7 linked regions of the Homo sapiens genome follow. The protein of the gene in region 7 purifies or fractionates together with the protein of the main gene of each other region. This does not show direct contact. Each region holds a gene or a part of one and is shown on either strand. Other genes may lie near its edges.

Evidence for each region.
Region 1: the proteins of CPEB1 (region 7) and STAU2 purify together in Homo sapiens (affinity purification with mass spectrometry; one large-scale study listed by BioGRID and IntAct). This does not show direct contact.
Region 2: the proteins of CPEB1 (region 7) and MSI2 purify together in Homo sapiens (affinity purification with mass spectrometry; one large-scale study listed by BioGRID and IntAct). This does not show direct contact.
Region 3: the proteins of CPEB1 (region 7) and CSTF2 purify together in Homo sapiens (affinity purification with mass spectrometry; 2 studies listed by BioGRID and IntAct, with this or other methods). This does not show direct contact.
Region 4: the proteins of CPEB1 (region 7) and DDX50 purify together in Homo sapiens (affinity purification with mass spectrometry; one large-scale study listed by BioGRID and IntAct). This does not show direct contact.
Region 5: the proteins of CPEB1 (region 7) and PUM1 purify together in Homo sapiens (affinity purification with mass spectrometry; one large-scale study listed by BioGRID and IntAct). This does not show direct contact.
Region 6: the proteins of CPEB1 (region 7) and METAP1D purify together in Homo sapiens (affinity purification with mass spectrometry; 2 studies listed by BioGRID and IntAct, with this or other methods). This does not show direct contact.

Annotation. Positions count from the first base shown.
Region 1 is NC_000008.11:73,614,341-73,617,840, reverse strand, and holds part of STAU2 (double-stranded RNA-binding protein Staufen homolog 2), read left to right. Parts: intron 1-389; coding exon 390-549; intron 550-2,058; coding exon 2,059-2,166; intron 2,167-3,500. UniProt on the Homo sapiens protein: RNA-binding protein required for the microtubule-dependent transport of neuronal RNA from the cell body to the dendrite.
Region 2 is NC_000017.11:57,609,523-57,613,022, forward strand, and holds part of MSI2 (RNA-binding protein Musashi homolog 2), read left to right. Parts: intron 1-3,500.
Region 3 is NC_000023.11:100,823,391-100,826,890, forward strand, and holds part of CSTF2 (cleavage stimulation factor subunit 2), read left to right. Parts: coding exon 1-38; intron 39-495; coding exon 496-615; intron 616-729; coding exon 730-867; intron 868-3,243; coding exon 3,244-3,367; intron 3,368-3,500. UniProt on the Homo sapiens protein: One of the multiple factors required for polyadenylation and 3'-end cleavage of mammalian pre-mRNAs. This subunit is directly involved in the binding to pre-mRNAs.
Region 4 is NC_000010.11:68,900,016-68,904,114, forward strand, and holds the start of DDX50 (ATP-dependent RNA helicase DDX50), read left to right. Parts: upstream 1-1,299; 5' UTR 1,300-1,369; coding exon 1,370-1,456; intron 1,457-2,040; exon of another isoform or gene 2,041-2,411; intron 2,412-4,099. UniProt on the Homo sapiens protein: ATP-dependent RNA helicase that may play a role in various aspects of RNA metabolism including pre-mRNA splicing or ribosomal RNA production.
Region 5 is NC_000001.11:30,968,218-30,971,717, reverse strand, and holds part of PUM1 (pumilio homolog 1), read left to right. Parts: intron 1-3,225; coding exon 3,226-3,364; intron 3,365-3,480; exon of another isoform or gene 3,481-3,500. UniProt on the Homo sapiens protein: Sequence-specific RNA-binding protein that acts as a post-transcriptional repressor by binding the 3'-UTR of mRNA targets.
Region 6 is NC_000002.12:172,079,953-172,082,930, forward strand, and holds the end of METAP1D (methionine aminopeptidase 1D, mitochondrial isoform 1 precursor), read left to right. Parts: intron 1-175; coding exon 176-254; intron 255-375; coding exon 376-454; 3' UTR 455-2,478; downstream 2,479-2,978. UniProt on the Homo sapiens protein: Removes the N-terminal methionine from nascent proteins. The N-terminal methionine is often cleaved when the second residue in the primary sequence is small and uncharged (Met-Ala-, Cys, Gly, Pro, Ser, Thr, or Val).
Region 7 is NC_000015.10:82,546,364-82,549,863, forward strand, and holds part of CPEB1 (cytoplasmic polyadenylation element-binding protein 1), read right to left. Parts: intron 3,296-3,500; coding exon 3,097-3,295; intron 875-3,096; coding exon 780-874; intron 159-779; coding exon 78-158; intron 1-77.

The sequences.
Region 1 (3,500 bases), on a different chromosome or scaffold from region 7:
AAAAAGCACGGTAATCTACATGTTGTCGCCTGAACAGTCTTGCCTGACCCAGCCTCTGTTGTAGCTTCATCAGACTGTTCTCTTACTTCTGTCAAAATCTGACCGAAAACTTCTCACCAGGAAGTATCCTGTGATATAATTAAATAATTTTTACTGTATTGTTTTATGTTTAATGTTGTATTCTATATATGTTTTTCATGGAGATCAGTATAAGCTATTATCTATAGATGTATTGACTCACATTTTATCAAAAAAGTATGTTTTTGAGGTTAAAGTTTTATTAAGAGTATAGCACATTATATAATTGGTATCATTTTAAACAAATCTTATGAATGATTATAGAGTGGTTTTATTAAGCTAACTTTAATGTTTTTATTTTCTTATTTTAGGTATCATTGCCCAGTGCCTAAGATCTTTTATGTTCAGCTCACTGTAGGAAATAATGAATTTTTTGGGGAAGGAAAGACTCGACAAGCTGCTAGACACAATGCTGCAATGAAAGCCCTCCAAGCACTGCAGAATGAACCTATTCCAGAAAGATCTCCTCAGGTGTGGTGCTGCTGCATGTGACAGTCTGTTCTTTCTACTTTCCCAGTGAAACAAATCAGAGCATTTTATAATTAAAATAAATAATCTGTTCTGATAGGGAAGAATACTAGAGTGAAGACCTGACAGTCTTGCTTCATGTGTTCCTGCAGGGTGACTACCTTTCAGAGCTTTGGTTCTTCCCTTGAGTTCACTTCCCAGGCAACTGGGGATTTGGGGATGTATATGAGGATGAGAAATAACATTGATTTGGCTTATATTTCATACTATGTTTATTGAATATAGATTACATTGTGTGAATCTAGAATCAAGGATTTAAAGTGGAAGAGATTTTATGGATTTTTCAGTCCTCTTTTGTTTTACAAATGACATTGAGGCTGTTCTTAAGTAATCTCACTCATTCTCATGGCTTCAGCTACTTTCTTGATTGACTTCAAAATAGTATCTCTAGCTCAGGCATGTCCTATACATAGCATAGTGAGCTTCCTTTTTTTTTTGAGATGGAGCCTCGCTCTGTTGCCCAGGCTGGAATGCAGTGGCAGGATCTCAGCTCACTGCAACCTCTGCCTCCCGGGTTCAAGCGATTCTCCTGCCTCAGCCTCTTGAGTAGCTGGGACCATAGGCTCATGCTACCACGCCCAGCTAATTTTTTGTATTTTTAGCAGAGATGGGGTTTCACTGTGTTAACCAGGATGTTCTCGATCTCTTGACCTCGTGATTTGCCTGCCTCGGCCTCCTAAAATGCTGGGATTACAGGCGTGAGCCACCATGCCCGGCAGCATAGTGAGCTTCTTACTTACCCTACAGTTCAACCTCTACAGTTTTCCTTTCCCCAAACCAATTGTTTCTTTCTCCTTTGATATTTATCTTAATGGCAGACTTAGGTGTTTTTCTGCTTGTACTCTTTCATGAGAGCTCCTATCTATTTCTTGATCTGTTTTCCCACTAGATCATTCTCTCCCAGTTCTTGACAGCAAGGAATACTGTCTCTTTCTAATAGTTATAGTAAGTTCAGCATATATGAGGCCTTCCAGAAGTATGTGTTAAATAAGTGAATAAAGTAAACCAATGCCTGTGCCAGACATAGATCTCCAATTAGGATGCTCCTGGTTTGCATCCTGTACTCTTTCTGTAACTTCATCCTCATAGATCACATTAGAACACCAGTGGGGGAATTCCTGGGTGTTGGGGGTTGGGTGGGTAGAGAACTCTAAAACAAGAGTGCCAGGTTTAGGGATGTAGGCTAAACTCAAATTAGTGTATGGTTGAGTAAAAGATTTCCAAAGTCTGCATTAAATGCTTTTCCTTCAAGGAAAACAAGCTAAAAATCGAGTAACAAAAAGCCTGGCAGCAAAGCCCTTGACCGCTGTGGTTACAGGAGAATGCAGCAGATACAGTCTATATAGTTTGTTGTTTCTTCTTGTAATTTAAATAGGCCATCTTGACTGTAGAATAAAAGTAAAGTTTGTTATAATGTCAAGATTCAGTGTTATCCTATTTTTTGTGATTTAGAATGGTGAATCAGGAAAGGATGTGGATGATGACAAAGATGCAAATAAGTCTGAGATCAGCTTAGTGTTTGAAATTGCTCTGAAGCGAAATATGCCTGTCAGTTTTGAGGTATGTACTCGGTAGAGATCTTCCCATTTTTTCCCTTGCTGTGGTTATTTTAAACAAACAAATCAAATTAACTGGTGTATTAGTATCCTGCAAGAGTTAGTGTGCTTCTATATGTTCAAACCCAGTATTATGAAATGATCTAGGCCCTGGTGAAAATAGAAATCATGATGATAACACAGATTCCTTCTGATTTTTTTCTTTTCTGTATTAAGCCTTTTGTATACATGGTATTTCAATTTTTATTATAAAAGTTATTTTCTGGGTATAGATAATTTGTGGTATCCTATAAGATTTGGCATTTTAAATAGGATTAAATTAAATTTATTCAAGTTAAGATTTAGTGACATACATGTTAATATCCAATTTTTTTTTCAATTGTGTGGAGGCCAAAATATGTTTCACTTTAACCTCAACTAACAAAATCACCAAGAAGTAAGATGTAATGAAGCAACTCTTGACTTAACAGCTAGATAAATATATTGCAAATATATTCATAAAATTGTATGAAATTTCAAAAAAGAAAACTTAAAAAAATAATTATTATAATACTTCTTTTATTAAGAGGTCACTAATTTTACAACTCATGTCTGGAAAGTAGACAAGAACCAGGAAATAAGCTGAAAGAGTTGTGGAGATTCTTCCCTCACATTGTATGACATTCACCTACTAGAAAGCTCCCACATCTTACTCATTGGCAGGATCATCTGAGTTGGACTGAGAAACTGTTTGCTTTCTCTTGGACACATTCTTACAAGTTGCATTATCTCAGTTCTCGGTCCACAGCTTGTTAAAAGCAGCAAAATGAGGAAGTCAGGGAGAGAATGTACTTGAGATCCTATTGGTCCAGCAAGAAATGATACGGAAAATTTGGAAAACCTGTAAAAAGTAATTGCTTATACTAAAAAATTATTGGGATTTTTTTTAAAGGCTACAATGAGTAAGAACAGACAGTTTTATTATTCTTAGGTGTTCTTGGGAACATCAATATATTATGATGTAGGATATCTGATGTTTATAATGATGATCTAATGTGAACAATTAAAGGTTAAATATTTAGTATTGCAGATTAAACAAGGTTTAGGAACATTACATTCATAGTTGACAGGTCCATAACTCATTACTCTAGAAAGCTAGGAATTTTTTTGGCATACCTACTTACCTTTTTAAAATCGTGTCACAAGAATAAATATCCCTTTCTGTAAAACAGCTTTTGACATCCCTATCAAAAACAGCTTATTTTTATCCATTGACTGTTTTTGAGAGGCTTCCACAGGCACAGTGCCTTGTGGTTTATAGAACTACTCGTTTCTCCAGCAACTTACTCGTACATAGGA
Region 2 (3,500 bases), on a different chromosome or scaffold from region 7:
CTTGTCCTGGATGGTACATCAAGGCCACAGGTCCAGGGCTTGGATTTCCCTCTGGGCCCCAAGGCCGCGTGCTGACTGGGTTCTTTTGTACAGAGACCAGGGAAAAACAAAAGCCCTTTACTTCCCAAAGCTTGGCATACTCCTCAGACTGCCAGCCACCATCCCCAAAGATGCCAGGGCAGTGAGCTTACCTTTGCAAGGGCTTCGGATCCACTGGGGAGGAGTGGCCACTCATAGTAGCTGCAGGGAAGCTGTTCTTGCAGAAGCTCCAGCACCTCCTCTGAAAGCCAGTGCTAAGCATTCCCCGCTAGGGAGAGGGTGTAACGCAGGGCCACAGCACCCACTCTCCTGGCTTGGGCTGGGGCTATAGGCAGATCGGGATTAACATCCCAGCCCTGCACACAGGTACTGGGTCTGGACCACAGGTTAGATGTCTGAGTCTGAGCCTCAGTTTCCTGCTCCGTGGGATGGATATATAGCTATAAAGGTCATTATCGGGTCCGCTGGCAAAACAAGCGTATGGAAGGTAAAGTATTGCATTAATGTTAAACGTACTGAGACTGATAACTGTGCTATGATTACGTAAGAAAATGCCCTCATGTTTATGAAACGCATACCAACTTACTCTCAAATGGAAAAAAAAATCCTGGCCAGGTGCAGTGGCTCACGTCTGTAATCCCAGCACTTCGGGAGGCTGAGGCGGGAAGATCACGAGGTCAGGAGTTCGAGACCAGCCTGGCCAATGTGGTGAAACCCCTGTCTCTACTAAAAATACAAAAATTAGCAGGGCGTGGTGGCGTGCACCTATAGTCCCAGCTACTCGGGAGACTGAGGCAGGAGAATCACTTGAACCCGGGAGGCGGAGGTTGCAGTGAGCTGAGGTCACGCCACTGCACTCCAGCCTGAGCGACACAGCAAGACTCCGTCTAAAAAAAAAAAAAATTCTACATATAGAGGGCTCAGGAGTGTGTGCAAATGATAAGGCAAAAGTAACAAAATGTTAGCAGTAGGTGAATTCTGGTAAAGGATACTCTCCTTGCAACTTTTCTGTAAATTTGAAATGATTCCTGAGTAAGGAGTTAGAAACTGCAAACCTCCTTGCTGAGTTGCTGTGGATGCTGATGGGAGGAGGCACCCAACCCAGTGGGCAGCAAGGACAAGAGTGTTAGCGACCACAGGGGCCACACTCCCATCAGGCCTTCGTTTTGTTCTCTAAAGGAACATGCTGCTGCCCTAGGTGTCCAGGGGCTAGGTGTCCAGGGGCTAGGTCATTATTCTGAACCCATTACCATGGGGACTATGAGGAAGCCACACCCTCTCTTCTAAGGCCAGTTTGTCGAACAAAGCAGCATATTGGGAGAAGAAAATTTCAGAACAAATCCCATCAATTTTGTTGGGGTGGGGGGTGTTGGCACATCCCTGGTATTGGGAGTGTTTTGTGGCATTGCCAGCTGTGCACCTTGAAAACAGAGACCTGGTCCTTCTGGTATAAGCAGTTGGTCATCAGTGGCCTCTGAGGCTTCTTACAAGTGCTCAGTCAGATGGAACATCTCACTGCATTTCTTGCCCCTTGAATAGACTGCTCTGGTCAGTTGCTATTTGAAACAGTAGCAGCAGTAGCAGCAGCCACTGTGAGAAGCCGTTGGTGCAGGAGACTCAAGGACTGAGACTGGGAGGTGGGCCTTCCTCAAGGGGAAGTCTTAGGAGGTGGGGCCAAAATACCTGCAGCAAGAGGCCTGGTCCCCATGAGCACCACATTTGTTTTGTTTTAGAGGACCATGGGGAGCCAGGCAGGCCTGTGTGGGGCTACAGTGGGAAGGGAGCCCCCGTGCCCTGCCCTCTGCCCTGTGGTGAGAGCAGCCCTAGGTGCCCACTGCTCCAAGGACCCAGCCAGCCAAAAGCCAGAGTGTGAGGAGTGCCTCCTGCTGCCCTGTCAGCTCACTGCCCTTCACCGACCACATGTGGTTGTTGGTCTCCAAAGATTATCCCTAGAGCCCCCTCCCACACGGACTCTAGGCTGGCCCAGTGTCACCAGTAGAATGTGTGGGAGGGAACACTGTGAGTCCCAAGGCTAGGTTAGAAGAAGCCTTGCAGCTTCTGCCTGAGTCTGTTGGAATGCTTGTGCTTGGGACACTTCCTCTTGGGACTTAGCCACCATATTGTGACAAGACCAGGCGCCATGGAGAAGCCATGGTGGACGCCCCATCAGCAGGCCCAGCCAAACCAGTGTGGCTGCCTGCCATGTGAGCGAGGAGCCATCTTGGGCCTCCAGCCTCGTTGAGGCCTCCTCTGGCCTCAGCCCCAGTCACCACCTGACCACAGCGCCATGAGACCACCAGCAAGAGCCCAGCTGAGCCGGTCACCCCACAGAACCCTGAGGAAGGATGATTAAATTGTTGCTCAAAGCCACTAAGTTTGGGGGCAGTTTGTTGCTCAGCAGTAGATACCTGGAACAGAGCATGTGACCAGATAGCCTAAGTACATGACTAGAACCGAAAAGATAGACCACTTTTTACCCTTTTTGGGTTCTGACTGTCACCCGGGTTGTTCATGCCAAGCTCTCTGGCTTATGCAGGGCCTGGGGGAGGACAGCAGGGGAAGGTGACCCGATGTGGGCTAACTCAAGACGCTCGAGAGGCTAACAAGTGCAGAAGCAGCGAGGGGCAGGTTGATGTGTGAGTACTTGCATTCATCTTAGGAGAACAAGACAGTCAGAGCCTCTTCTTTTTCAATACAATGAGAGCTCTCAGAGAGGTGGAGGCTTTCCTTATTTATCTTTGGGTCCCCAAAGCCTAGCACTTGCCTGGCGTGTTGAGTTCCTCCGCATCTGCGTCATTGAATTAAGTGGCTGAGTCTCGGGGGTGGAGGGGACTGGACAGGCTTCCTGGTCCTGAGAAGTCTTTCAAGAGGCCTTCAGGGCAGGCAGGCCAGGTTCCCTGCTGTTAACTGTTACCTGCTGCCTTCCCCTGTCATTCAGATGCCCAGGACAGGCCAGGGTCCCCTGGAGAGTGTATGCGCCATGGCCCCTGGCCTTGGGGAACACTCACCGTTGACCCAGCAGGTGGTTGGCACTCAGACAGTCATTGCTGCCCAAACCACCAGCAGCAAAGACAGAGCAGAATTAAACAGAGCTGTCAGCCCTGTTCAGTGAGAGGAAGAGTAGGTGGGTTTGTTTAAAACACTCCCATTACAGTCAGTTAACCTTTATGTTCCCTAAATGAAAATTGTATAAACCTGAGATTTCCGTTGATCGGGTTGCCTAGGAACAGGCAGCAGGTTTTCATAAGACAATGCAGTAGATTGTCACCGATAGGGCTATTAGGAAGTGAGCTGGTTAGCGGTATTATTCCCCTTGCTGGTGTTGGCTTTGGGTAATTATCTGTCTGCCTGTGCGAGACACGCCCATCTTCCTAGGCTTGGGGCAGGTTCATGCAAATGAGATTTCTCAGCCTGCTCCTCTGGAGTCCTGAAGCCAGTTTTCACCCCTGGGCTTAGGAGAG
Region 3 (3,500 bases), on a different chromosome or scaffold from region 7:
CACCAGAGCAGATGTTTGAGCTGATGAAACAAATGAAGGTGGGAGGAGGCATTAGGTTATGAATAAAGCAAATCACATCAGGTTTTCAAGGAGTTACTTGAATTAGTTCCCTGAGCTCAAATAGAAATTGTCTGTAGACCACCATTTCTTGCACCTTCAATATTCTGTATGTACACAGTATATTTTACATTTTGTACAAAGAGCTTTCTATTTTTGTACACAAACACAGCTATCCAAACAATCCAGCTGGAGTTTTGTGGCCCATAGATGTCAGATGTAGATATTAAAATTTGGCTTTTTTCCTAAATGATAATATCACAGTATTTGAAATGCCTCTTTCTTCTCTTGCCTGCCATGACCAAGGTTTTTTTGTGCCATGCAAAAACTAATGATAAAGAGCCTCTTGAATATTACATTTCTCAGAGGGGAATGGCTCTAAATCACTATCAGTTTCTAAGTCATAAGTATTAAACCTGAATCTGCTTATCTTCTCAGCTCTGTGTCCAGAATAGTCCCCAGGAGGCACGGAACATGTTACTTCAGAACCCTCAACTGGCTTATGCTTTGCTGCAAGCACAGGTAGTGATGAGAATTGTGGATCCGGAAATTGCCCTGGTGAGTGCTTCTGGTTCTTTTATGGAAATGGTCGGGTAAACCTTGAATGGGATAGGAACTACCTGATTGCTTTGTTAAACAGACAGCTCATAGGTTTGTCTTTTCACTTTTTAGAAAATTCTGCATCGCCAGACAAATATCCCAACGCTGATTGCAGGCAACCCTCAGCCAGTCCATGGTGCTGGGCCTGGCTCAGGATCCAATGTGTCAATGAACCAGCAGAATCCTCAGGCCCCTCAGGCCCAGTCTTTGGTAGGGCTTTATCCCTTAACATTTTTTTGTATCTGTCTTAGAATGTCATTTTCTTTTTAGGAGAATATATTGAAAGAAGAATGGTCAGGAACCAGAGATGATAATTTCAATTTCCAGGCATAAAAGCAATTTCCAGGTTGCAGAGCACATGACATCTGAATGAATATAGATTCGATTCCAAGTTTGTAAAACAAAGAGATCCTTCCCGTATGCCCTTTTCTTATAAGCTAACTTTGTGTGTATGTGCATGCCTGGCACTGTGGTTGGCACTTCGTTATTCCATATGCATTATCTCATTTAATCCTCAAAGCAATTGTATGAGGTTGGCACTCTTATTATCTCCATTCTTACTGATGAAAAAAGTAAAGCTTGCTTTCAAAGCATGACACAAAACCTTAAAGCCATAAAAAATTGATACATTTGAAAACTAAAAAATTTCTATATAAAGAAAAAAATAAGTATCAAAGACATGACAAATTGAGAAAAAGTATTTACCACACATGTGATGGAAAACAGACTAATAAAGAGCCCATAGTCATTCACAAGAATGTTTATTGCCTTAGAGTGAAAAATTGGAAATGTCCTAAATGTACGTCAGTGGAAGAATGGAGAAAATGTGTGGTACATTCATCCAGTGAAATACTGTACAACAGTTAAATAAACTACACGTATCAACATGAATGACTTTGAAAAACATAATTCCATACAGCAGTTAAGATGAACTAGGATACATAATATCAACACAACTCCAAAACAGTGACATACGGACATGAAACTAAGTGAATATGGATGCATTCCCGAAATGTAGGATATATGTTTCTGCATAAATCCCCAAAATATGTGGAATGAGTTGCAAAATAATATATTGAGTATGTAATGATTCATATAAAATTTTGAAACATTAAGAAGACGTCTTAGTGGTCATCAAAGGAGAAGAGAGCACAGGATGCAATTGGGGAAGACCGTACAGGCCATTGGTTTATTTTATTTACTTATTTATTTCCTAAGCTGGGTGGCTATTTTATTTTCTATATGATTTGTATATCTGTAATTTTTCATAATAAATTTTAAAAGGCCTCCTATAAATTAGTAAGAAAATTTCCAATAACCCAGTAGAAAAATGGGAAATAGACATAAATATTTCACAAAAGGAGAAATATAAATATATAAAAATTTATTCAACTTCAAAATAAGATAATGTAATAAATTATCATTTATATATGTAATGTTATAAGATAATGTAAATAGAAACTACAATAAGCTACCATTTTTCATCTCTCAGGTTGGCAGAGGTACAGGGCAGGGACCAGCAAACATTTTTCTGTAAATGATCAGACAGTAAATATTTTTGGCTTTGCAAGTCACAGGATCTGCCACAGCTACTCTGCCATGGTAGTATGAAATCAGCCATAGGCAATAAGTGAACAAGTGTGTGTGGTTGTGTTCCGTTAAAAGTTTGTTTATAAAACCAGGCAGTGAGCCCGATTTGGCCCATGGGTCATAGTTTGCCAACCCCTGCTCTAAATAAATAAATACATTTTCAGAGATAGAAAAAAAAAGCTAAGGCCCAGAGAGGTTAGCTGGTCCAAAAATTGACACAATTATAAGTGGCAGATCTATTTCTGAACCTGGTTTTATCTGACCTCACAGCCAGTTTTCTCTTAACTACTTTCCTATACAGCTCTTCCTTTTCTTTTGTAGAGTTTTGTGTTCCTTAAACGTATATGTGATTTTTTTTATATAACTTGGCTTTTATTCTTTATTTATTGAGCTGTTTCTAATTCAAGGGACTACTCAGTTTTTTGGGGAATGCACAGATGAAAAGATGACATTCTCTTTTTCTCAACGAGTTTTAATGTAGCATTTAAAAAAATATATTTCACATTCCCCCAAAACCAGAATTATATCTAAGGACAGGAGTGAGAAAAGATTGGTTAAATTAAAAAAAAAATTTAATTTTAAAAATGTGGACTACCAGCAGTTGTTTTTTTTAAAAGAGTCCCAGTCTCCTTTTATGTTTCTTGGGTTTAGGGCTTTTTTTTTTTTTTTTTTTTACTCTTATTGGCAGCCCCAATCATGAAGTTAACAGTAGGTGTTATGTGCTGCCTTGCCACACAGATAAGACTTGTCAATCTCTACATTGAGAATATGTTCCATCTTAACCGTGTTCCATATAACCAGGCTCATGACGTATATTGCTTCTGTGGAGTTTAAAGTGTGTGACAAATCTAATGCTGCATAAGACATGCCATACAAAAAGGATGTTTAGTAGTGTATTTGGGGCTGTTCATTTGAAGAGGACTTTTAAGGTCGTAGACTTAGTATATTGAGTATCCACAGAGGCATATACATACTCTGTTTTTTTTGCTTGGTCAGGGTGGAATGCATGTCAATGGCGCACCTCCTCTGATGCAAGCTTCTATGCAGGGTGGAGTTCCAGCACCAGGGCAAATGCCAGCTGCTGTCACAGGACCTGGCCCTGGTTCCTTAGCTCCTGGAGGTAAGTTTCATTTAGTCTTCACCATTTCAGTACTTGCTAAAGTTTTGTCATAGCCACTGTTGCAGTGCAGCCAAATATGATAATGGGATCCTTAGGTAAAATTAATACACAGCTAGAAAGTATATATCTTAGG
Region 4 (4,099 bases), on a different chromosome or scaffold from region 7:
CAATCACAGATTTAACATTTGTGGTTCCAGCTATTCAGGACCAATTCCCAAACTCCACGACATGTAACAATTTGTAATTTTGCTAGGACACAGTTTGATGCTTAGGTTTTAAGGCTGGTGTGCTAGACGTTATCAAGTGGTTTGTGAGAGTAGCCCTGTGTCTCCATTGGGTAGAGTAGCTGGGTCGCAAGGATCATGAAGAGATGAAGAAATGGCTGTGAAAAGCCAACTAGCCTCGGTGATAGTAAGCAAAGGTATAGAAACACTAAGGAAGTTACCCTTTGTATTGTCAAAGGTTTCAGTTTTGTGTAAGGTGGTGATTCACGGGCAGTTAATCTCCATCACTAAAATTAAATCCTTTTTTATTCATTGCAAATAGATAATCTGTGGAAGACATTTTGGCTTTTCTCGCTAGCAGAAAATGTGAGGCTTCTTCAGGTTTTTCCTGTTCATTGTTTCACGGGAGCATCTTCCCCAAAACACTGCAAAACTCAAAGTTCTCAGGCTGATGTGGCAGAAAGAGCATTGATCTCGGCTTCAGGAGCTAAATTCTCTAGTCCTGACTGTGCCACTAACAGACTGTGGGACTTCAGACAAGTACATTCCTTTCTCGGGTTTCTTATGTCAAATGGACAGCGTGAGAAGGATCACAATGAACCAGGGATCAGCTTCACGATTAAAACCTAAGACTTAAGAGACGGACATCTGTCCGTTCCTGGCTACACCTCCGGCCCATCTGGCCCACCCCAAACTGCGCGAAGCCCCTCTCCACCGACGCCAGGCCTGTGGCCTCGCGCGAAGCTGTTGGTCGTTAACATCTCCCCCGCAATGGGCGGGATGGAGGGCTTCAGCTTCCGGCTGCAAATGGCGAGGCGGCGCGCGGCGTTGCCCACTGGCCTCGGCATGGGCCTGCCCACGCACCCGCCCAGCGCGCGCCGGACCCTGTCTACCGCCGTTGAAGGGCTTCCCAGCCCTAGCAGTGCGTACTGGGAAGCCCCCAAAAGGCTCTGCGAGGCCGAGGAGACCCGTTCGGAGTGGGGGAGGGGAAGATAAACCGAACTATTTATGTTAATCAGTGCATGCTTCCTTTATGGAGATTGGCCAGGGTTTTACTCTAGTAACCAATCACTTCAGAACAAGGGCGGGCCCGTTGATATCTCTCACACTCATTGGTTGAGAGGTTGCGGCGCAATGGAAGGTCTTAAACCGAGAGTATCCGGGATTATTTTTCCCCGCCGTGCGGTGCGTGTCCCGGAAGTGACGCATGGCCAAGGCCGGGCGGCCGCCTTGCCCCCGCTTCCTTTCACGCTGTCGCTGCCCGTAGGTGGTTGTGGCCACTGTGCCCGGAGGGAGGCGGCGGTGGCCAGTAATGCCTGGGAAACTCCTCTGGGGGGACATTATGGAGCTGGAAGCACCCTTGGAGGAGTCCGAGAGCCAGAAGAAGGAGAGGCAAAAGGTGCGCTGAGCATGGGCCGCGCCTCCTTTTGGGCTGCGCCGGCTTGGGCGGGGAGGGGAACTGTCTGTCCCTGATGATGGCCTGTCAGAACCGGGCCGGAGCATCCGAGGGCCTCCCTTCGCGCCGCCCTCGGCCCTCTGGGGTCGCTCAGGGACCGTTTCCACCTCCACCCTCCCGACCTGGAGAAAGATGGCCCTGGGCTTTGGGCCTCTCCTCCGCGTGGCCCCTCAGCCCTTCCCGTTGGCGCCTGAATCTCAGATGGGCAGACTCAAGCTCCCATCACCATGGAATCTGTTCTTTCTCTCCTGAAGCAGTGACGCTTGCCATTTCGTTTTCATTGGCCCTCTTAGAAGATGATTAAGAAAAAATGATTGCTTTGAATATGTGTTGCTTCTGTCACCCCGTCCCCTGTGCAAGAATCCTGGGGAAAGCGATCTTAGGTTTACAGACCTCAATAACTAGTCTGTAGAGGCTTAAGGAAAAGTGTCACTGAGACTTGCCAGGATTTGTCAGTGATGGAGATCGTGTGGGTTGCATTATTAATAGCCTTTACTGTCAGTATTTTCATTCAATCCGCAGGTGTTTATTGAACCTAATTTGTACCATACTCTTTGCTGAGTACCAAGGAGGTTAAACTAAATAAGTAAAGAAATGGTCTCTGCTCTCAAGGAGCCTGTAGAGGAGTTGTAGTCTTTCCTCCTCCCAGCCCCCTGCCCTCCAAAAAAAAAAAAAAAAAAAAAGGAAAAGAAAAAACATCCTGAAACACTCAGAGGATCACAAGGTGCTGAAAAAATGCCCAGGTAAAATTATTACTGGAGACATTTGACCTGGAAAAAAGAAATCAGCTGAAGAGGCTAAGGTGGCAGTATTCGAAGGCTGACATTCGACAAAAGAATGAGACTTATTTTGTATAGCCTTAGAAAGCAGAATCTACCTCTCTGACCTTATCACTAAGGTAAACTTGCCATTTCAGCTAACACTTTTATTGTGCTAAAATACACATAACGTTTATCATTTTAACCATTTTTAAGTATATAGCTCTGTGACATTAAGTATATTTACATCGTTTTGCAGCTGTCACCATCATCCATCTCCAGAACTTTTCATTGTCCCAGACTGAAACTCTGTGCCCATTAAACACTCACTTCTCATTCCTCTCTCCTTCCACTCCCGGCAACTACCATTCTACTTTCGCTCTGTGAATTTGACTACTGAAGTTACCTAGAGTGTAAGCAGAAAACCAAGCAGGTATTTTAAAAAAGGCTTCTTTTGAAATTCTTGTCTTTTGCATCCCAATCCTGTCCAGCGGTCAAGGCCTAGTTTATGTCTTTCCTGACAACCCGAATGTACCGTTATCTAGTTTCAGTGGCTATCTTCATCATTTGATTGACATTTGTTATGCATGTCTATATAAAATTAGTTCATTTTTCCTGTATGTATCCCACATATTTCCCAAAAGTTCTTGAGGAAAGTGACCAAATCTTTATCCATCCTTATGTTTCACTATGTTGTTTTAAATTGGTGGCTTTCACATTGTAAATTCTCCAGAAATACATATTGACTGCCCTTTAACTATGAAAGATAACCAGAGATTTGGAAACGAATTGGAATACCAACTAAAAGAAATAGAGCATTAGAATACAGGTCTGGTGGCTAGCTGCAGTGGCTCATGCCTGTAATCCTAGCACTTTGGGACGCTGAGATGGGAGGATTGCTTGAGCCCAGAAGTTTAGGTAGAGTTTTGTAGAGACCCTGTCTCTACAAAAAATAAAAAAATTAGCCGGGTGCGGTGGCTCATGCCTGTAATCCCAGCACTTTGGGAGGCTGAGGCAGGCAGATCACCTGAGGTCAGGAGTTCAAGACCAGCCTGGCCAACATGGTTAAATCCCATCTCTGCTAAAAATATAAAAATTGGGCCGGGCATGGTGACTCACTCCTGTAATCCCAGCACTTTGGGAGGCTGAGGCGGGTGGATCGTGAGGTCAGGAGATCGAGACCATCCCGGCCAACATGGTGAAACACCATCTCTACTAAAAATACCAAAAAAGGCCAGGTGCGGTGGCTCACGTCTGTAATGCCGGCATTTTTGGAGGCTGAGGCAGGTGGATCACCTAAGGTCAGGAGTTCGAGACCAGCCTGGCCAACATGGTGAAACTCCGTCTTTACTAAAAATACAAAAATTAGCTGGGCATGGTGGCACATGCCTGTAATCCCAGCTACTCAGGAGGCTGAGGTAAGAGAATCGTATGAACCCGGGAGGCTGAGGTTGCAGTGAGCTGAAATCGCACCACTGCACTGCAGCCTGGGTGACACAGCGAGACTCCATTTAAAAAAAAAACCCAAAAAACCCAAAAATTAGCTGGGTGTGGTGGCGCGTGCCTGTAATTCCAGCTACTCGGGAGGCTGAGATACAGGAATTGCTTGAACCTGGGAGGCAGAGGTTGCAGTGAGCCGAGATCGCACCATTGCACTCCAGCCTGGGTGACAGAGCAAGACTCCGTCTCAGAAAAAAAAAAAAAAAAATTAGCTGGGCGTGGTGGCAGACGCCTGTAATCCCAGCTACTCGGGATGCTAAGGCAGGAGAATTGCTTGAACCCAGGAGGCAGAGGTTGCAGTGAGCCAAGATCACGTCATTGCACACCA
Region 5 (3,500 bases), on a different chromosome or scaffold from region 7:
AAATAGAATTTCATAATTGAGAGGAAATCGATTGAGGAAATACAATTTGTGTGCCCAGGGTCACACAAATACAAAGTTGTTAAGATTTGAACATAAGCCTCTGTCTTGACAACTTTTCTTCTGACCATATTGTGATGTCTTGACTTAAAGAAAATCTGAGATCTTGTGTTTCTTCTGCCGTTAACTAGCTTACAACTAGGGCAAGTTGGATGGCTTCTCTAAATGCATATATTTTTGTTATAAAATGGACATAATAATCATTAACTTTTCAGTTTTCTGTCATTCCCTACAGGTTCTGTCAAACCCTACTAAGAAGTTTTTAGCATTAGTTTTTAATTAGCAGCCATTGTTTTAGTTCCTTTTTTTTGGGTGCCAGTTTCTGATTTTAAGTATTTGAGGAAAATATGATTTTTTTGGTAAACTGCCTTGTCATAGTAATTAAAATGAGAGGTTCTTTTTAAACTTTGCTGTTGGCCTTTTGGGCCCTTGTATTTTATCAGAAAGTATATGTTGCGTTCTAGTCAAGCTGACTGTTCTAGGATAGTTTTTATAAATTCAGTCATTTTGTGATTTATTAGACTTTAAAATGTTACTTGTGAAACTGTATATTTTGTTTCCATAAAATCATGGATTTGACAGCTATTGATGAAATGAAAATATATGAATTTTGGCAGATAACTGAAGGACTTTTATTTGTAGTTAGGGGTACTGGACAGATTTCTAGAGAGTGGACAAAAAGCTAACACTGTTTTCCTTCCTTATTACAAGACTCATCAATAGTCTTAGACTACCTCTTTAGGTACCTTGTCCACTCTACCACACCTGCCCTTTCACAGAACACCTAATCAAACATAAACCTACTTCTTTATATTCTGTGAAAGCAATGCTTTCATTGTTTTTTAAAATCTTCAGCAATTTTGAACTATTAGCATTTGCCATATTTCTGTGCTTGCTATTTACTTATCCTAGAGTGAGATCTCTTCTGAGTTATTGGGTATGTAAATTCTAAGTATTTGGCAAAAATGCTTGCTATTTACTTATCCTAGAGTGAGATCTCTTTTGAGTTATTGGGTATGTAAATTCTAAGTATTTGGTAAAACTCACCTGTACAGCCCCCCGACTCTTCTATCTACGTAGTTTGAAACACACTTTCTCTTACAAAGTTGGTTAGGTTCTTTAGGTCAGAAACAAATTATATAATATCTTGATAATAGTGATTTGCTATTGGTTATTGATGATCTCCTGGGTATCAGGCAGTGTGGCTTAAACACATTATTTGAGATATTTCCAGCAAATCTGCAAGATCATTTGTTAATTCTTACTTATTACTGATATAGAAGTAAAAGATTGGGCAAATTAAGTGTCCACACATCCCTTCTTGCCAGTGTGGACAGTGTTGGTCACCTTATACTCACTTAACAAATATTTAATTGGTTATTAGTGTTGCTTCTCTTTTTACATTTTTTTTTTACCACTGGTACCAAGAATAATTTGTACCCATTTTCTTGACCATATGTCTAACTTTTATAAATAACACAGTGAAATTGAAAGTGATCTGATAAGAACTGTACACTTGACAATATGACAAAACACATTGTTAGGAACTGTAGTAATTTTAGCCTTGGTTTGTGGGTTTTGCATTTTTGCTTGCTGGAGTGTGTAGATCTTGTGAGATAGATTCTTCACATCATTCAGAATAATAATGATTGCTAGCATTTTGATGTCTGTGTTTCATTAATAAAAAGTAGATCCTTGACTGGGCTCAGTGGCTTCACACTTGTAATCCCAACACTTTGGCAGGCCAAGGCAGGTGGATTGCTTGTGCCCAGGAGTTAGAGATTAGCCTGAACAACATGGTGAGACCCTGTCTCTACAAAAAATAGAAAAATTAGCCAGGTGTGGTGGTGCATACCTGTAGTACCAGCTACTCAGGAGAGGTGGGAGCATCTCTTCAGCCTGGGATGCAGGGGTTACAGTGAGCTGAGACTGTGCCACACTACACTCCAGCCTGAGCAGCAGAGCATGGCCCTGTCTCTTCCCTGCACTCCGCGCCACCCGCCGCCCACCAAAAAAAAAAAAGTAGATCCTTTATCAGAGTGGCATAACTGGTATTCTGCACTGAACTTGACTAATGCGTATGTTTGTGGAATTTCTGAGAGGGAAATAGAAATAGTCAGGTGAGAGCCCTACCAAATCGAATCTGGTGAACTCATTTGGGGCCATGTGGACCTTGATAAATATATTAGTGTTAAAGAGGAAATATTCTCATTCCATCTTTTGTGTGCATGTGAGACTCAGTTGACTTTAAATGTGTGGGTAAATTACCCCTGTTCATCTTGTCTGGAACCCCTCCCAACCCCCATTAATACTCTTTTTTTTTCTTTTTTTTTTTTTTTTTTTTGTGTGTGTGTTTTGAAATGGAGTTTTGCTCTTTTTCCCAGGCTGGAGCGAAGTGTCTCGATCTCAGCTCACTGCAACCTCCGCCTCCCAGGTTCAAGTGATTCTCCTGCCTCATCCTCTCTCGTAGCTGGGATTATAGGCACCTGCTGCCACGCCTGGCTAATTTTTGTAGTTTTAGTAGAGACGGGGTTTTGCCATGTTGGCCAGGCTGGTCTCGAACTCCTGACCTCTGATAATCCACCTGCCTCGGCCTCCCAAAGTGCTAGGATTACAGGCGTGAGCCACCACGCCTGGCCTGTTACACTCTTTTTTTTTCTTCACCCACTTTTTGTCAGAGCACTGACATTATATAGTATGGTTTATTGTCTGTCTCATTCGTTAAAATAAAAGCTCCATGAGGACAGGGGCTTTGTCGGTCTTGTTCATTGCTCTGTCTCACTTGCCCATTTGCCACATGGTAGGCATTAAATATTTGATAACACTACCACTTGCTGATGCCAGATATTCCAAATTCATCTTTTAACTTAATTGTCACAAGAACTTTATGAGGCAGATGAGATAAAATGTTTGAATGAATGAATCATCACTTTTGTGTGCTTTTTGCTGCTTATAGAGATAATGTGTTTAAAGTAAGAATGGTAGAATGAAATTCCACTCTATGAAATGTTATTAATTGAATTTATACGCTAACAGCTGTGACATATAAAAACCATTATAGGGAAACAATTTACAATTAAGTTTTAAAAGTTGACCCAACCTGAGCATAGGGTAGGTCTTCTCCAATGAAAAGAAAGTGGTTGAGTTATTTCTGTCTTCCTTTCCCAGGTTCTCCGTGGAGGAGCCAGCCAACGTCCTTTGACCCCAAACCAGAACCAGCAGGGACAGCAAACGGATCCCCTTGTGGCAGCTGCAGCAGTGAATTCTGCCCTTGCATTTGGACAAGGTCTGGCAGCAGGCATGCCAGGTGCGGCTGCATTGTTATTCCTAATACTTTGGCAGGGAAAAAGGCTGCACGTTTGAGGTGATTACAGAGGGGAATGAGCAGTGCTTTCACCTTGCTTAGGCTTGTCATGATTTGGGGACTGGCAAGGATGATACAC
Region 6 (2,978 bases), on a different chromosome or scaffold from region 7:
TAGTATACTATGTAAGCAACATCAATTATCAACCCTTGCAAGATGACAACATGAGCCTGTGGGGGAAGCACTTGAGGGGAGGGAGGAGAAACTTCTCTTTTTTAATAATCAGCCGGAAACAATGTTTAACAAGAATCTGATGAGGTCACTGCAGTAAATATTTTTCCTCTTACAGAGCCAATCATCACGGAGGGATCCCCTGAATTTAAAGTCCTGGAGGATGCATGGACTGTGGTCTCCCTAGACAATCAAAGGTGTTTGCTTTCTGCTCTGTTGCTTTTAAATTGTATGGGAAAGGAAGATTGGTCCGACGGCGCGCTTGTGGCCCGGCCGGAGCTTGCGTGCGCGTTCTGACGGCTGGGTGCTGTGTTACAGGTCGGCGCAGTTCGAGCACACGGTTCTGATCACGTCGAGGGGCGCGCAGATCCTGACCAAACTACCCCATGAGGCCTGAGGAGCCGCCCGAAGGTCGCGGTGACCTGGTGCCTTTTTAAATAAATTGCTGAAATTTGGCTGGAGAACTTTTAGAAGAAACAGGGAAATGACCGGTGGTGCGGTAACCTGCGTGGCTCCTGATAGCGTTTGGAAGAACGCGGGGGAGACTGAAGAGCAACTGGGAACTCGGATCTGAAGCCCTGCTGGGGTCGCGCGGCTTTGGAAAAACAAATCCTGGCCCTGGACTCGGTTTCCCAGCGCGGTCAACGCATCTGGAGGGGACTGGAGGAAACCCCCTTGTTGGAAGAGATTCCAAGAGAAGCACGGTTTTCTCTTTCCCTTGCCCTGACTGTTGGAGTAAAAAACCTCTTAAATCCATTGTATCAGAGGTCCTTACCTCTCTGACAGTTACAGTGATCTTTGTATCTGAACTTTGCACGTCTGCCGAAAAATCCGAACCTGTTGACTGGGATTTTTAAGAATCCGTTTCTCCCTTTTGTGTATTCCATATTGGCCGGCCCCAAGGATGCTCGCAGAAGCCAGCCCCCAACCCCAGCCCTTCCGTATCTTTCCCCTCCATCGCGGCTTTGCGATGAAAGATTAGCCCGCGAACAGAGGCATTGATTACAAACATGTCCTTGGCAGTGGACTCTGGGCCTGGCCATTCTTCAGGTTTCTGTCAATCCAGAAACGCGACTTTCCTGGACCCCTGCGGCTCTTCCTCCCCCGCCCACATCCAGCCCTCCAAGGCCAGTCCAGAGGTGAAGTTTGAGGCCCTCCCCCCACCCACCCCACACGCACGCACGCACGCTAGACCGTTTGCTGCACTAGGAATTCGAGCTTGGGCCCCACTCGCCCAGGTGTGAACAGTGGCTGATTAGTGGGCGGTCTAGTCTCTAAAATGACCCCTCCCCAGACTGGCCCTTCTCGCATCGGGACCCGCGCTTGCACGCTGCAGGAGCCGCAAACGTCAGCTGTTCTGGAAACCGAGAGGGTCCCAGAGAGAGGAGATACGGGCGCATTTGAGAGCAAGGGCCTACTTGGCCGGGACTGAAGCTTGCGAGTTGAGCTCCAGTTCGGCCGGCAGTTCCATCCCGCTTCAGGAACAGGAATCCAAGGGCCCACGCTCTGTCTGCCAAGGGCCATTCCTGCCCGGAGCACCCTCCTTTCCCTTGCGCTTGCTCTCCGGTACCTGTTCCTCACCTGAGCTCAAGGGCAGGGAGAGGCCGGGCCTCTGGCAGTCCACGAAGGAAGCCGTCTGCCTTCGGTTATGATTTTAGGAACAAGTCCAACGAGGGTGTTCAAGCAGTTAATGGTTGTGCTAACTCTTGTTTCTACTGAAGCGGGTTTTGCAAAGCTGACATCCCTTAAAGATAACTTGGGCTTTCGGAAGCGGCAAGGAAATGGCACCTGTAGTTGCCAGGACAGGTGGTGTCCTCGGCCAGGACTAAGAGCCAGCTCATCTTTGTAACATTCATAATACGGGAAACTGAGGACCAGGTGGCTCGGAAAAGAGATGAGTTCCAGCTTTTACCTAACACAGGGTTCTCTCGTCGTCCCCCAACCCCTCCAGCTCGGCTTCTTTGTGTCCAGGGTTGTAGATTTTTGGATAGAGGTGTTTCTGATTCTAGTGAGTCTGAGAACTGGAAAAGACCAAGGAGGGGTTGATGATTTACAAGGTCCATAGAAAAACTTTTTGTGTGGTCGGAAGTTGGCCAAGCAGAGGCCCACAGCCTGATGCTACTGCCCCCCACCCCCCCAAAGATCTGAATTCCCTAAAGATCAAGAGGGTTCAGCTGGCCTTGGGAGATGTTTGCTGGAGAATGACTTCAGTTTTCTCCTAAGGCAATCAGATTGCAACCATTAGCATTGTATCTTATCTGCAAATCAGTTTACTCCGAGGTTCCCCAAGGATAGTTTTATTAGGACCACAGGACTTTACTAACCACTGAGGTAACACGCTGCTTGTGCAGCAATTATTTTGAGGTGGAGGTATTTATGGGACAAGTTTATAATTCCATTTATTAAAGGGACTAACCTAAAGTGTGTGGGTGTATATATATATGTGTGTATGTGTGTACCAACACTCAGCAGCTCCCTAAAGAACTCCCTTTAACATGCTTTGAAGTTGAGATTAGGAAGTAGATTTAAAAATACCTCGTCCACGCCTTCCTGTCCCTCTTCCAGCTGAACTGGCCGAAAACCTCACCCAGAGCCACTGGGATTCCAGCCAAGAGTGGCTGCGGCTAACACCACCAGGACCTCCTGGTCCTGAGGTGACTCCAGTAGGCTCCATGAGGAATCCCGGACCCTCAGGACAAATGGGAGAGTTTTGTTTTCTCTCAGAGTGAGGGCAGGCAACAATTTAAGCAAACCGGCATTCAGAACAGGTGTCACCTTAGCAGTAGGGGGTGGGAGGGATCCACTCCAAGTTCACTGAGTGCAGCTAAGATCCCACATTGAGAAACCAGCTACCGCCAGCGGCTCGGCATCAGAGGGCCCGCGCTCAGTGCTCCTCCCTAGACCTTTCTGAGCTAAGAAAT
Region 7 (3,500 bases):
GGATTACAGGTGTGAACCACCGCGCCCAGCCAACAATTTTTAATAGAGGGCAGGGACTTCATAGACATCGGACCCACCTGATCTCGACAGAAGAAAGGACCAGGCTGAGAACTGCAGATATGACACAGAGAATCTTCTAGGTAGGGGTCAATCTGAACCTGCACAAAGGCAAAATAAGATGATGAAGTGGCTCTTCTTACCAGGAGGCTCGATAGGCGATAGAAGAAGGGCACATTATTGGCCACACACAGGAATGCGGGATATTGGAATGCAGGATATTTGCCTGTTTTAAAGGAGGCTTGGAGAGAATTATGGGCCTGAAGTACAGAAAGGAGTTCTAGAGGACAGACTCATACACCATGCACAGTCAGGCTGGATGCCTCTGGGATTCAGGCAACCACACACCTTAATGCCTGGTCTTCTAGGCAAACTGTACCTCAGCCCTCTATCAATTAGCAGTATAGGCAAGTGTTCGGAGGATTCCCAAAAGGTTGGAAAATAGGAAGTCAGGCTACTGAGCAATGCCAAAGAAATACCACAGTGAGGGAAGGCACCCTACACACTGAAGAGGCTCAACAGTCCCAGTTCCCTTCCTCCTGGGCGTACAAAGACCAAGCCCACTCCCAAACCCTAACCTCAATGTTAATTCTCAGGAATTTGGCTCACTTCCCTAAACACACCCAGCACAAACAGCTTCAGGTCTCAGGCCTGCCCTGGGTAGTAACTGCCCAAACCCCTCTCATATACCCCAGAGTAAGGGCATAAACCAGCCAACTCACCTTCTTTGTGAACTTGGTGGTTTTGATCTCCACAAAAGCAGCGCTGACTGCTTTCAGGTAACTCCGTTGGTTATTGAAAGTCACACGACCAGAACCTAGGACAACAGACACAAGCTTCCCTTCTAACCAAATTCTCCCAAATGCTACTTTTTTTTTTTTTTTTTTTTTTTTTGAGATGGAGTCTCGCTCTTTCGCCCAGGCTGGTGTGCAGTGGCGCAATCTCTGCTCACTGCAAGCTCTGCCTCCCGGTTTCACGCCATTCTCCTGCCTCAGCCTCCCGAGTAGCTGGGACTACAGGCATCTGCCACCACACCCAGCTAATTTTTTGTATTTTTAGTAGAGATCGGGTTTCACCATTAGCCAGCATGGTCTTGATCTCCTGACCTTGTGACCCGCCCGCCTCAGCCTCCCAAAGTGCTGGGATTACAGGCGTGAGCCACCGAGCCTGCCCTAATGCTACTCTTTTAAAATGCAGGAAACCCTTTACGATACTAGTGCTGTCCGACAGAAATATAATGTGAGCTACTATGTAACTTTATTTATTTTTTGAGACAGGGTCTCCCTCTGTCACTCAGGCTGGAGTGTAATGGCGTGATCTCAGCTCACTGCAACCTCTGCATCCCAGGCTCAAACAATCTCCTGCCTCAGCCTCCCAAGTAGCTGGGACTACAAGCATGAGCCACCATGCCTGGCTAATTTTTGTATTTTTTTGTAGAGACAGGGTTTCACCATATTGTCCAGGCTGGTCTTGAACTCCTGGACTCAAACGATCTGCCCCACCTCGGCCTCCCAAAGTGCCAGGATTATAGGTATAAGCCATCATGGTCAGCCCTTATGTAACTTTAAATTTTCTAGTAGTCACACTGAAATTTTAAAACAGTGGTGACATTAATTTTAATAATATATTTTATTGGCCGGGCACGGTGGCTCACACCTGTAAACCCAGTGCTTTGGGAGGCCAAGGTGGGCGGATCATGAGGTCAAGAGATGGAGACCATCCTGGCTAACATGGTGAAACCCCGTCTCTACTAAAAATACAAAAATTAGCTGAGCGTGGTGGCGCACACCTGTAGTCCCAGCTACTCAGGAGGCTGAGGCAGGAGAATCACTTGAACCCAGGAGGCAGAGGTTGCAGTGAGCTGAGATAGCACCACTGCACTCCAGCACGGCAACAGAGTGAGACTCCATCTCAAAAAAAAAATTTTATTTAACCCTATATGTTAATAATATTATTTCCAAATGTGACAACAGCTGTGTTTCCAAAACTCAATGGGGCCACATTTAGCTGGTAGCTACCATATTCGTACCATATTTGACAGTGGAGATCATGTTAGCGTGAACCATTCAGGAATGGGGGAAGAATTTGCAGATCAAGATGGGAAGGAAAGATAAGGGACTCCTTCAGTGCAGGTAGAGCATAGGTTAAGGTTAAAGGATTCAGAGTGGAAGCCAAGATGCAGATAGAACACTTGTCTGAAGGGTAAGCCCAGCAGTTGAACTGAACCTCTCCTAGCCCTTAGGCACTCTGGAGACCTATTAAGAGAGCTGGAAGAAGCCCCATCCTGCCAAGTTCCTCCTCCGCTCCTGGGGCTTCTGAAGTCCCTGTTCTCAATCTGCTGCACAGTATTGGTGAGTACATGGTGCTCCTTCCTGACCAGATTCAGTGTGGGTGTGAAGACTAAGCATTTGGGGAGGTGGGTTAGCCACATGTTAATCACAGAGGTCAGGCTCTGCTCCACCTCCATACCTCATCATTGACATTTTGCCAGGACTGGCGAATTGACCTCCTTTCTCAGAGGAGCTGATCAAAACCTAGTGGTTAGGCCCACAGACTTCTGAGTTAGGAAAGCACAGGCCACACTCTGTTGCCTGACTCACTCAGAAAGTCCTCCTCCAGCCTGACCTGGTCTCTGACCTTAGACAATGCCAGAGCTTTTCAAGAACTTTTAATAAAAAACTCCAGGCAAGTTCAGAGAATTGCAGCCTTTTCATGAAATAGTACCTGTTGTCTGTTCCAAACTGGTTTCGCTGTGAACTCTGAGCTTCCAACAAAGTTCCTACCTCACTCTCACTTCTTATCACCTCCTGTAGTCTCCAATAGCTTTTTCTCCCACTGCGTGGGAGATGGTGGGTAGAGGGCTAGATACAGAAGGGCCAGTACTCGTGACTTGTCTAGAAAAAGATATTATGGTGCTGGTATATGCTGATCTGCAGACCTGGGTCAGGCCTCTCTCCTCACTCCCATGGGGAAGTATCACAATCTTGGTCTACTCCCAGGGGCCAACCAAGCTTTCGCACACAGAAGTGGGACACTTACCAATGGGATACTTGTGCTTATCTGTGTCAATCCCGGCATACACCACTCCACCAAATAGGTCGTTCAAGATGGCTGCCAGGGCCTCAGCATTTAGCATTCCATGCAGAGCACCGACAAACACCGTCCTGCTGGGGTCAAGCCTCTGAGATGGGCTCCGGACAAAGTTACTGTCGGCTAATACCCAGGGGATCACCTGCACCTGAAAACCACCCAAAGGTGTATCAGCCCTGGCAGAGAGCCACAGAGAGAGAGGTGCTTGCACGGCAAGGTACGTGCTCTGGAGATACTGAAGCTAAGCTAACGCCCTTACAGGGGTGAAAAGGTGCTGTTGCCCAATCTCAGGCACACAGGCGTCCAATAAACCACCCTGACTCCACCCCAACTGGAGTTGAATTTTACTGAGT